Linked DNA regions of Homo sapiens: region 2 is linked to region 1. A link means that fine-mapping ties the variant in region 1 to the plasma level of a protein whose gene starts in the linked region. Region 1 holds a variant in brackets. A gene starts in the other region. All regions are shown on their reverse strands.

Region 1 (5,376 bases):
ACACCTGCAGTGTCTGTGAGGCCGCCTTGCTTGATGTGGACTTCAACAAGGCCAAGTCCCCACTCCCGGGCGATGAGGCGCAGCACATGGGCTGCGTCTTTTGTGACCCCGTCTTCCAGGAGCTGGTGGAGCTGAAGCATGCGGCCTCCTGCCACCCCATGCACCGCGGTGGACCAGGGAGAAGGCAGGGTCGAGGGCGGGGCCGGGCCAGGAGGCCCCCTGGGAAGCCCAACCCCAGACGGCCCAAGGACAAGATGTCAGCCCTGGCCGCCTACTTTGTATGATGACCCTGTCCTCCCTCACCCAGGCTGCAGTGCCATGCAGACACCTCATGGCACTTCAAACTATTAAAATGCATTTTATCTTATCCAGAGCTGGGGCCCCTTTGCTGGTGCAGCGATGTCAGAGCGTTACCGTGTCCCTGGGCACCTGTGGGGCCCTCTTTCCCTCTCCGAAACCCAATACGTCTCCCTTCAGCCTGCATACACGTGCCCAGAGTGCTCCCTGCTATCCCTACACCCTGGCAGTACGGGCAGGGATGCCCCAACCCTGAAGCCCTGGGGAATAGACCCAGTTTGCACTCACACCCCATCTCAATCCGTGCTGCTGATGGTAGCTGTGTGCACAAGCAGTGGCCCTGATGCCTTAAGGAAGGCGGCCTTGACAGCTGTGGCTCCGGCAGGAGAGGAGTTTAGTGGAGCAGGTGGGGCTGGGAGACCCCCTCCCTGGATCTGGCTTATGAATCCCCTTGGTCTTCGCTGCAGCCCCCTGCTCAGGGCCACGCTCTTGACCCCACGCTTCTCCGTCCCCTGCTCCCTGCTCCCATCTCTGAGAAGCCCTGTACATGGTGCCCGTGTGCGTCTGGCAGCTTCCCAGGACCTGCTGCAATTCCCATTCTCACAACAAGGCCTTATGGTCTTAGAGGCAGCTGGGTGCCCCATGGAACCCATTCACATGCCAGGTTTAGAAAATACCCTGTAGGCCAGACTGCCCTGTGGTGCCAGGTGCTGGTGGCAGCTGCCCTCTGACCTCAGTGCCTTCTTGTGCTCCCCTCCCCAGCCACCCGAGGAGAGACACCTGTGCGGGATCCACTGTGTGTTGGAAACTCCCTCCACACTCCGCCCGTGCCTCATTGAGTGATGACGGGAGCTCAGCAAAACAGCTTTCCAGACTGTTCAGTGGGACCTTTCTTTGAGGGGCAGGTCAGGAATGTTTCGGACTCAGACCCGCCCCCGCCCCAACTCAGTAGTAGATTCCCAGGCTGCACCAGGACTTATATGAGAGCTCCTGTAAGGAAACCCAGAGCCCACCAAGCATACCCCACCTGGACCCCCTTCCTGGAGGCCCTCACAGGTTAACACGGGGGTTCCCTGGAACACAGTTTGGAGAGCTACTCGAAGCTGAATGAAAATACAGAGACATGGGGAACCACATAGAGGGTCCTGGGATGTGTCTCAGAAGCACAGGCTTCAGGAAGGAGGGGGTGCTCTCAGAGCTTCTGCCCCCTCCCACCCACTCTGGTCCCATTCTGGGGCCCTAGCAAGGCCACACCTGTTAGGTCCCCAGTGCGGGGCTGTGACTCTGCTCTTCCACCCACAGGGCCCAGTGGACCTGGAGCCTTCTCCGCAGAAGGTTTCAAGACCTCCAGGACCCTTAGGTTATAGGGCTCATTCAGGCTTGGAGGAGCAGAGACGGTTCCTAGGTCTTAAACCCAGACCACCCAGTCCTTCCTTACTATGCTTCTGCACTGCGCTTTCAGCCACAGGCAGGGCTAATCACAAAGTGTTCCTTTATTTTCCTCTGCAGTTGTCCCTTGTGTGTGACCCTCCTTCAAGGCCCTTGGCTTCCGCAGCTTGATTCTGCACTCCGAGTCCATTCACCTTCTCCCATCCAATAGCATCCAACCCCGCTGCTACTGCTGCCAACCTGGCCTTGGGAGCAATGAGGACGAGGAAGGGACAAGACCCCTTTTAGGCCAGAACTGCCTTCAGATCAGCCACGCTCCATGGGACTGTACCTCTGCCCTGGAGGCTGGAGAGCTCAGTGGCTGCAGACTGTCTCAAGGAGCCCCTGGCCCTGCCCACCTAGCCAGGGGTGCAGCCTTGCCAGAGAAGCAGAGAAGCGTCTGTGGCTGGGTGGGTGATATTGAAAGATTCCTTTCACCAGGGTGGAAGCCAGGATCTGAGGCGTGATGGAATGTGGACAGTGAGGCAGTGACAGCGCCACAAGGCAGGAGTCATCTCCAGGCACGTCCTTGGCCTGGAGCCCATAGGGACAAGCTCCTGGTGGTGCCTCACTTTGCCATCCTCTCTAAGCCGCAGACCTTGAATGGAATCAGTGCTCAAGAGTCTAATTGGGCCCACTCTGAGGATGCCTGCGGGAATATCAGCTTTTACCGCACCACACTGCACTTTACAGTGTGGGAGGGCCTGCCCCACGCACCACCTCACCTATACTGCGGTTCTCAAACTTCACCCTACAGCCATTCTGTTGTAGGTGATCTCAGGGGCAGTTTGAGAAACAGTGGCTCAGGGTCTCACAGCAGCCCTCTGAGATAGGTTGGTTGCTATTGTCCCGATTTTTTCTCATCAAGAAACTGAGGCTCAGGTGAGCTAAGGAATGTGCCCAGGGCCACAGTTTATAAGAAGTAGCCTCAAGCCTTGCTCATGGTTACTGCCCTGACAGGGATCTAGGAAGGAGTGAGCAGGAGAATGGGATGAGGCAGGACCCTCCGCCCCAGCCCTGCTTTCTCTGCCCAGACACCTCCTGCCTTGCAGACCCAACCCCACCCCAGATGGTTTCCTTTCCAGTCACCCAGCTGCTAGTTCTCCAGGTTCCTGGTCTCACTCCAGGTTCCTCCTGTTAGAGAAGCATCCCAGAGACATTCATTCCTGGCAAGGATGAATGGTTTTCCATCTCCCTTAGGGTGTCCAGACTCTCTGCCCACACCTTCATAATTTAGTTCTTTATTTATATTTTCATCAAATTCTATTTTAATTATACCAG[G/A]TATTTCCCCCGATCACTGATGAATATCTTCTAATTATAATTGGATTCCTAATAAACTTATTTGGTAAATAAATCTCCTGTATCATGTGCACGTCTTGGGAAGGAAATTGTTGCCCACAGAAACGTGAGGAGGCTCAGAATGTGCTATTAGCAATGATGCAGACATTCTGCAAGTGATAGTTGCGTGGAAGGGCTGCAGACTCTCACCGTAGGGCATACATGGCTGAAGCGTCACCACCAGTGCTGGCTGTTGTCACAAACAGCAGGGGCCTAGTGGGAGCCCAGGCAGCACAAGCAGAGGGGATTTTCCCATTGGCCTAGAGCACAGTGTAAGCCATGCCCTGTCAGCCCATCTGAGAGAGATGATCTGCTCCATCCTCAAGGTGAAGGCCAGAGACGACCAAATAACTTGAGACTCTGGAGGAGCCTCTCAACCCAGAGAATTGTCTGGGGACCCCAGAGGCCTGGTACTCATTTTAGCCTGAGCATAATCTCAGAACATAGTTGGAGGGCTCCCTGGATTCTGTAGGGAAAAGAAGGTATTTTTGCCACCGATATGAAAGCCGATATGCTCTGAGTGCAGGTGAGTGTTTGATCTGCATGAAGATGCTGGGAGTGAGGACACCTGGGTCAGCCCAGCCTGGAAGAGGGAACCTGGAAATGCAAACATTTACATTGTTGGAGCAGGTGTCAGGGTTAAGCTGTTGGCAAGTCTGAGCCAGAGGGGCTGACACAAGCTGGGAACTGCCCCAGGTCTCTAGGCCTTTTCCCTACATGTGCAGGGAGTGAGGACAAGCACGAGAGGGGTCCAGGCCATGGTAGACACAGCTCCCTTTGGTCCAGTGGGATGGATTGAGTTTATTACCTGCTGTAGGCCTCAGCGAGGAGGAGCTGGTCATGCAGGTGTGGCCCCAGCTGCTATCTGCCCCACCTCTCCCTGAGCACTGAATAAGGATCTTTTGCTGAGGGTCTTGTGGGTAGGAAGGGCTAACAGGCAGTGAGACTCTGTCTGCCCCACGGAAGGACCTGGGAGGGAAAGCTGCTGGGACAGCTGGTAGGCCTGTGAGCAGGGGCTCTGCTAGGCTAGAGAGGACCCTTCTCTGAGTGCCCATCACAGTCCAGGCTCACTGGAACTAGAGGACACCCCTACTGAGCCCTCCATGAGAGCACCCAGTGCAGTCCTCGGTGACCCTGACATCCTCAGTCCATCTTCTGTGTTCTCAGGGGGTCTAAGACTTCCTGTCATCTGACTGGTCACTGTCATTCAACAAACAGTAATTGAAAAACCTGAATGGCCAGTGATGTGATCAGCTCCAAAGTACTTTATATTAATATATTCTACATGTTTATGGACAACACACTATCAAACCACGAAAAGACATGGAAGAAACTTAAATGCTTATTAGTAAGTAAAAGGAGCTGACCTGCAAATGACATGATACGTGATTCCAAGTATATTACAGTCCAAAAAGGGGGAAATAATTTCAAGTGTATTACAGTCAAACAAAGGAAAAAAGTAGAAAAGTCATCGACTTCCAAAGGTTAGGGGAGAGAGAGAGATGAATCAGTAAAGCCAGAAGATTTGTAGGGAAGGGAAATACACTGCATGATACTGTAATGGTGGATATATGTCATTATATATTTGCACAAACCCATAGCCATAGGATGTGCATCAGCGAGAAAAATTCCTTAAGGAAAATACTGACTTGTAGTGATAATGACCTGTCAATGTGGTTCATCAATTACAGGACATGTACATTTCTGATGGGACCCGTTGATAAGGGGGAAGGCTGGACATGTGTGGAGCCAGGGAGGATAGGGAATATCTTTCTACCTTCTTCTGTATTTTGCTATGAACTTAAAACTGCACTAAATTAGTGGCCAACAAAACTGTGGAGAAATGCTCATCATCACTAATCATCAAGATATGCAAATCAAAACCACAATGAGACGCCATGTCACACCAGTCAGAATGGCTATAATTAGAGTAAAAAAACAACAGCTGATGGTGAGGCTGTAGAGTAAAGAAAACACGTATACACCGTATTTCAGGCATTGTGGAAAGCAGTTTGAAGACTTCTCAAAGAACTTAAAACAGAGCTACCATTTGACCCAGCAATCCCATTACAGGGTATCTATCCAAAGACAAATAGATCATTATACCCAAAGGCCACATGCACTTGTATATTCACCACCACACTATTCACAATACCAAAGACATGGGATCAACCTAGGTGCCCGTCAGTGGTGGGTTGGATAAAGAAAATATAGTTTATATACCCCATGGAATACTATGCATCCATAAAAAGGAATAAAATAATGTCCTTTGAAGCAACATGGATGCAGCAGGGGGACATAATCCTAGGCAAC
Region 2 (5,346 bases), not on the chromosome of region 1:
AGGACAGAAATAAATGCACCCTCTAACTATCAAAATACTACCCAGAGAGGCCAGGCGCAATTGCTCACGCCTGTAATCCCAGCACTTTGGGAGACCCAGCACTTTGGGAGATCACCTGAGGTCAGGAGTTCGAGGCCACCCTGGCCAGCATGGTGAAACCCTGTCTCTACTAAAAAATACAAAAATTAGCCAGGTGTGGTGGTGGGCGCCTGTGATCCCAGCTACTCAGAAGGCTGAGGCAGGAGAATCGCATGAACCCAGGAAGCAGAGATTGTAGTGAGCCGAGACGGCGCCACTGCACTCCAGCCTGGGTGACAGAGTGAGACTCTGTCTCAACAAAAACAAAACCAAAACGAACAAACAAACAAAACTACCCAGAGAAATTCTGAACAAAGTGAATTACAGTTTATGCAAGGGTTCTTTCCCATGAGTGGATTGCATTGTGAATCTTAGGACTATAGACTCCACAGGCATGAAATAAAACCCCCAATCTTGGTATGAAAACATAATCTTGATTTCTCTGGATGAGTTAGATACACCATAACCTGCAAATAAGAAAGGAATGTAGGATGTTAAAAAGAGGGAAACATTTGCCAAGATGGTCCAATTCTCCCAGGTGGTCATGAGATCTTTGTTATTCTAAAATCTGGGATCCATTCAGGGGGAGGCAGGGTGACAGAATGTAGTGTCTGAAGCCTTAGCCACTAGAGGGAGAAAGTGTGCCTCTGGTGACTAGGCAGCCAGTGAAAGTTAACTCTTGAAAAGGACCAGCTTCAAGGAAGCTAAATTAAGCTTCAATAAACCAGGGGCAAGGACTACATCAACTTGGTAACTGTGAGGATGTATCTTTAAGATTTCACAATGGATCCTCTTCTACCAAATAATTACATTGTGTAAACTATCAGACATTTCATCTTAATTTCGATTATCTTTATTTCATATTTTCAAGGATCTCTGTAACAGTACAGATACCTAAACACTTAGGTTCAGTTTTTAGGAAGGACTTATGACAATTTCGAGAACTTATGTTATCCTTTACATATTGTGCATTTACATATTATAAACGACATACAGATTTTTTGAGGTAATTTAAGACTAAAATATTTGCTCTCTGTTGGGATGATTAGAGTGACTTACTGGTTCTCTACTCAGACTTTCCCAAATACGACTTTAGGAAAACTAATTTTAGCAACTAAGTGTTTAAAAATCTGCCTTATCAATATATAACTCACAGGAACTGCAATTTTTCTTAAAATCATCATAATGTTATTGCAAGCCTGAGCCCAAATAATTTCTCTCCAACGAAAATTTGTTAATCTTGTTTGCTGTACCACACTATCTACCATTTTCTATAGTTAAACAAAAAGAGACTATCGTTACAATTGTTTAATAATACATTGTATAGGAAAAAAAACTTTCAAGAAGTAATTCATTATAAAAGCTACAGTATCACACAAGTTATATGGTATCCATTACTTCGTTTGTGTCGATGTGAATTAATTCCTTCCCTATATCAAAATGTAAAGAAAAGACACTATCCAAAATTACCTACAGAGTGGTGCTTAAGGTACTGTTGATGACTTAATTTCCAATATATCTTTTTTTCTCAGCAGAAAAAAAAAACCTCAACAACTATTTCTGGGATTCTTCAAAGGAGTAAGAGTACGGTGCCTGTTCCGACTCTTCTAGCATTGATTTTCTTCACAATCTGTGATATGGTTTCTCAGGAACACCGTTTGGCAGTCCTGATAATTTCATGTGTTTTCAAATTTCAGCCATCCAGACTACACAGTTCACTATTTTCAGCTCCTTTCATTTTCCTTTTCCCTTTAATTATAGAAGTCTCTATTCCCTCTTTTCGCAAATGTGGTCAGGAAAGATACTAAATGCTACTATTTGTAGAAAGAATATGCATTTGTTTTTCTCTTGACGGTTCACTTAAGTTCTTTCCAAATAAACAAGCTGTGGTTGATAGTGATAGGTAACACTTCAAGGGTAGCAACTTTTTGTACTCATCCGTTCCTTTGACTTTGGAAGACGTGGCACATGCCCCGGGGGAGAAAAAGCAAGTCAACACTTTAGTTTTTAAACTTGCACTGTTAAAGCACTTTCAAAATAGTAATAGTTGAGCTTCATCTCAGACATGAATGTCTTTCTCAGTCTATTCCCCAGGACCCCTCTTATCCCGCTTCAGGTCCCGGTCAATGCGGTGCGCTTTCCGAAATGGGGCCGCAGAGTTGCCGGCGGAGACCAGTAGGTGGGAGGCTCCACGCACACTCCCCGACTCGGCCGGGACGCGGCTCCCGGACTCCGCGCAGGGCGCCAAGATCGCCGCCCCGCTCCCTTCCCCCGGCCTCCCCACCAATCCCAGTTTGAAAGAAAACTTCACGCGGCCGAAATGAACGTCACCTCACCGCTCCAAGCCTCCAGCCGGCAGAAAACGTGAGATTTATTATGACACGGGGAGGGGAGATGGGGGTCGCCGTGGCACACTCGGAAGCGGGTTACCTGGCCCCCGTCGGGGGCGGGGTCCGCAGTCCGGGGACCAACGGGCTGGGGGCGACGCGGCCGGGCGCGCGGGTGGGCGCGAGGGAGTGCGCGCGTCGCGGAGCCTCCGGGGCAGCACTTGTCCTGTAATCGATTGCCGAGCGCGCCGAGCGGCTTAGCGCGCAGACACGCGCACACGCGCCCGCCAGCCCGCGCGCGCGCGCACACGCGCTCTCATACACACACGCACAGGCGCTCGGGCCCCGCACACACGCACGCGCGCGCACGCACGTCCGCTCGCCCGCGCCCGGGGCTCCGCTGCCCGCCGCCAGCCGCCCGCCGCCGCCGCCGCCGCAGCCGCCGCCAGCCCGCCCTCCGCCCGCGGGCGTCTGCGCGAGCCCGGCCGGCGGGGGAGATGTGCTCGGGCTCCACCGGATCGGTTTCTCGGGGTTTGACCAGCTGTCCCGGGCTAACCCTGCTCCTCGCTGAAGATGGAGGAAGTAAAAACAGGATTACCCTTAGCTACAGATCCACTGCCTTAGTTTCCACCACCAACTGCAGTGCACAAACACACGTTAGGCACAGGAAAGAAAGAAAGACAGAGGACACATTAACAGTAAACACAAACAAAAGGGTGATGGGATTATTTTACTGCATGCACTGCTGAGGTAAATCTCCGCTTGGCTTTTGCGTGGTGAAGAACAGCTCTTGTTTTGTCTTCTGATTCATAGATTATATATAAATATGTGTATGATTTGCAAAGGGGGGAGTGTTTTCAAAGTTAAGTGTAATTATATAGCATCTCGTTTTGCACTGTGATGTGATCAAATGACTTGTTGCTGTTAACCAGTAATAATAATAATAATATAGGTATTTTTCTCTGGGAGGGATGGATTGTGGTTCTGATTAGGGTAATGATTTTTGTAAAGGACGCTCAGGGAATCGGGTTGAAGATGATGTCCTCTGCCTTAATTTATCGTCCCCTCCTTGTAATCTGTTTCTGGGATGTTAATCGATTAATCAGTTCTCATCTCTATAGCTGTCATGAATTTGGACTTGTTTTGCTTTGTTTTAACTTGAATTCCAAGAAGAAAGATTGGGTAGGCTGGAATAAATTGAAGCTGTCCAGATAGAAGGTAATATCCAGATCCTGTTGGAATTAAAAAAAAAAAAAAACCAAAAACCCTGGTATGACACATGTAAACAGGCAGCAGTTAAATCACTTTGACAGGTTCTAGTATGGGCGAAAGAGATGGAATTAAGATTTATTTATTTTTTTTCTTTTTTGCCAAGGGCCAAAAACAGTCCTGTGAAGTTGGCCTGGGTTCCTAGCTGGGTTCTGCCTGACTGTCCCTCCCCTCTACCCGCCCCCCCCCCCTTTTCTTTCAGTTTTCTTGTCTTAGCTTTTGGTCGATTCTTAAGGAACCGGTGGATCAAGTTTTTTCTCTTGTTAATCGCATTGCTATAGCACTGACTGACCTCTCTCTCTCTCTTTTTTTTCCTCTTTCCTGAAAGTACGTGGTGCCATTCCTGAGTGACTTTTCCTACTAGACCATCCCTAAGGGACGAGGGGGAGGGGTGGAAGGAGGAGGAGGAGGAGGACGAGGAGGAGGAGGAGGAGGAGGGGGGTGTTCTTCTCTCTCATTTCTTGGTTTTGTTTATCAGCCGATCTGTTTGCTGGATTTGGGCTTGGAATGACCCACCTGTAAAGTGCTTTTCCTTCCTCCTCCCCTTGAACTCTGCAGGGGGCTTGGCTTGGAGGGGGCAAGGGAGGGAAAGAGAGAAGGGGGAAACACAAAAAACTTCTTTCTTTCTCCCTCCGTTTATCTTCAGCCCGACATTGTCACCTCCTCTTTGAGGGGTTAGAAGAAGCTGAGATCTCCCGACAGAGCTGGAAATGGTGATGAATCTTTTTTAATCAAAGGACAATTTCTTTTGTATGTACATTTCGTTTCTCTTTCTCCTTTTTCTTTTTCCTTCTTTCCTTCTCTGAGGGTTAATAACCATTTCATTGATGGGGCAGCCTTCTTTCGCTTCTCCCTGACGTTTCTTTCTTTTTAATATGTGTGTGTTAAATGTGTACATTTTTAAAGAGATAAGCTCATTTGTAAAATATCCGAAGAAACTGCTCCTCTTTTAAACTTTACGGATCTCTTTCTTTAAAGCCTTATGTAATCATAATTTAAAAGAATGTGATAACAGTACAGCAGGTTGAAATTTAAGTGCTATGTAGTGACTGAGTTGGGAATTTGATCTGATTATTCCATAAAGAAAGAAATAAAAGTTTTTTTTTGGGGGGGGGGTAAGGGAGTGTGGTGGTGAAGAAGGGGAGGGGAGGGAGAAGGGAAGTGGTTTTGGAGACAAGAAGTGAAGCTGCCTGTTTTCCAGTAAGTAATGGAGAAATTCCAGGAGCCAGGGCTAAATATACTTGGCGATCAATACAGAAATGGCTCATTGTGAATAATTTAGCTGCTGGTGCAGTGAGAGTTTTGAAACTAAAGGCAAAAAGGACCAAGGCCAAAGGGGGAAAAAAAAGTAAAAATCTTCTCAGGACTTGTCAATTCTTAAACTTTTTTCCCCACAGAATACAGTTAGATTATCGATCTTTTCATTATGTGAATCAAAGCTAGGGGGTGTCATCTCATACAGTTTACTTTTGTTTCTGAGAATTATGTTCTGTTGTGTGGCGTTTGTGCATGAGAATAATTGCCCAAAGTTTTTTTTTTTTTTAAATGATTCTCTCTAGCACAACCAAAGTTTATGAAATTTTCAAAATCAGACTGTATTAAGTAGGCTTGGCATTTGTGTCCAAGCATGGTCTGGCAGGAAATTAAGGTTACATTGAACAGGTGCTTACAC

Direction of the effects. Positions count from the first base shown, and alleles are read on the strand shown. Strength reflects both the effect of a copy and how common the allele is.
As copies of G replace A in region 1, the plasma level of the protein whose gene starts at base 2,956 in region 2 goes down (strong association).

Evidence for each region. PIP is the posterior inclusion probability: the model's chance that the variant is causal. Protein levels are from antibody-based Olink assays in UK Biobank. Linkage for the fine-mapping came from a reference panel and not from the study's own genotypes, which makes the PIPs less certain.
Region 2: IKZF2 starts here. The variant in region 1 is fine-mapped to the plasma level of the IKZF2 protein (UK Biobank, PIP 0.99).

Annotation. Positions count from the first base shown.
Region 1 is chr22:22,218,094-22,223,469 of GRCh38, reverse strand. It overlaps IGL, the pseudogene IGLVIV-53 and the pseudogene TOP3BP1. Among named protein-coding and RNA genes, the nearest start is that of VPREB1, 24 kb to the left of the region's middle. The variant G/A (reference allele first, on the strand shown) is at 3,007.
Region 2 is chr2:213,149,222-213,154,567 of GRCh38, reverse strand. IKZF2 (IKAROS family zinc finger 2) reads left to right here and starts at 2,956. Exons shown (of 9, transcript NM_001387220.1): 1 at 2,956-3,155; 2 at 4,321-4,424. RefSeq lists silencers at 2,366-2,725, 2,806-2,865 and an enhancer at 5,232-5,331.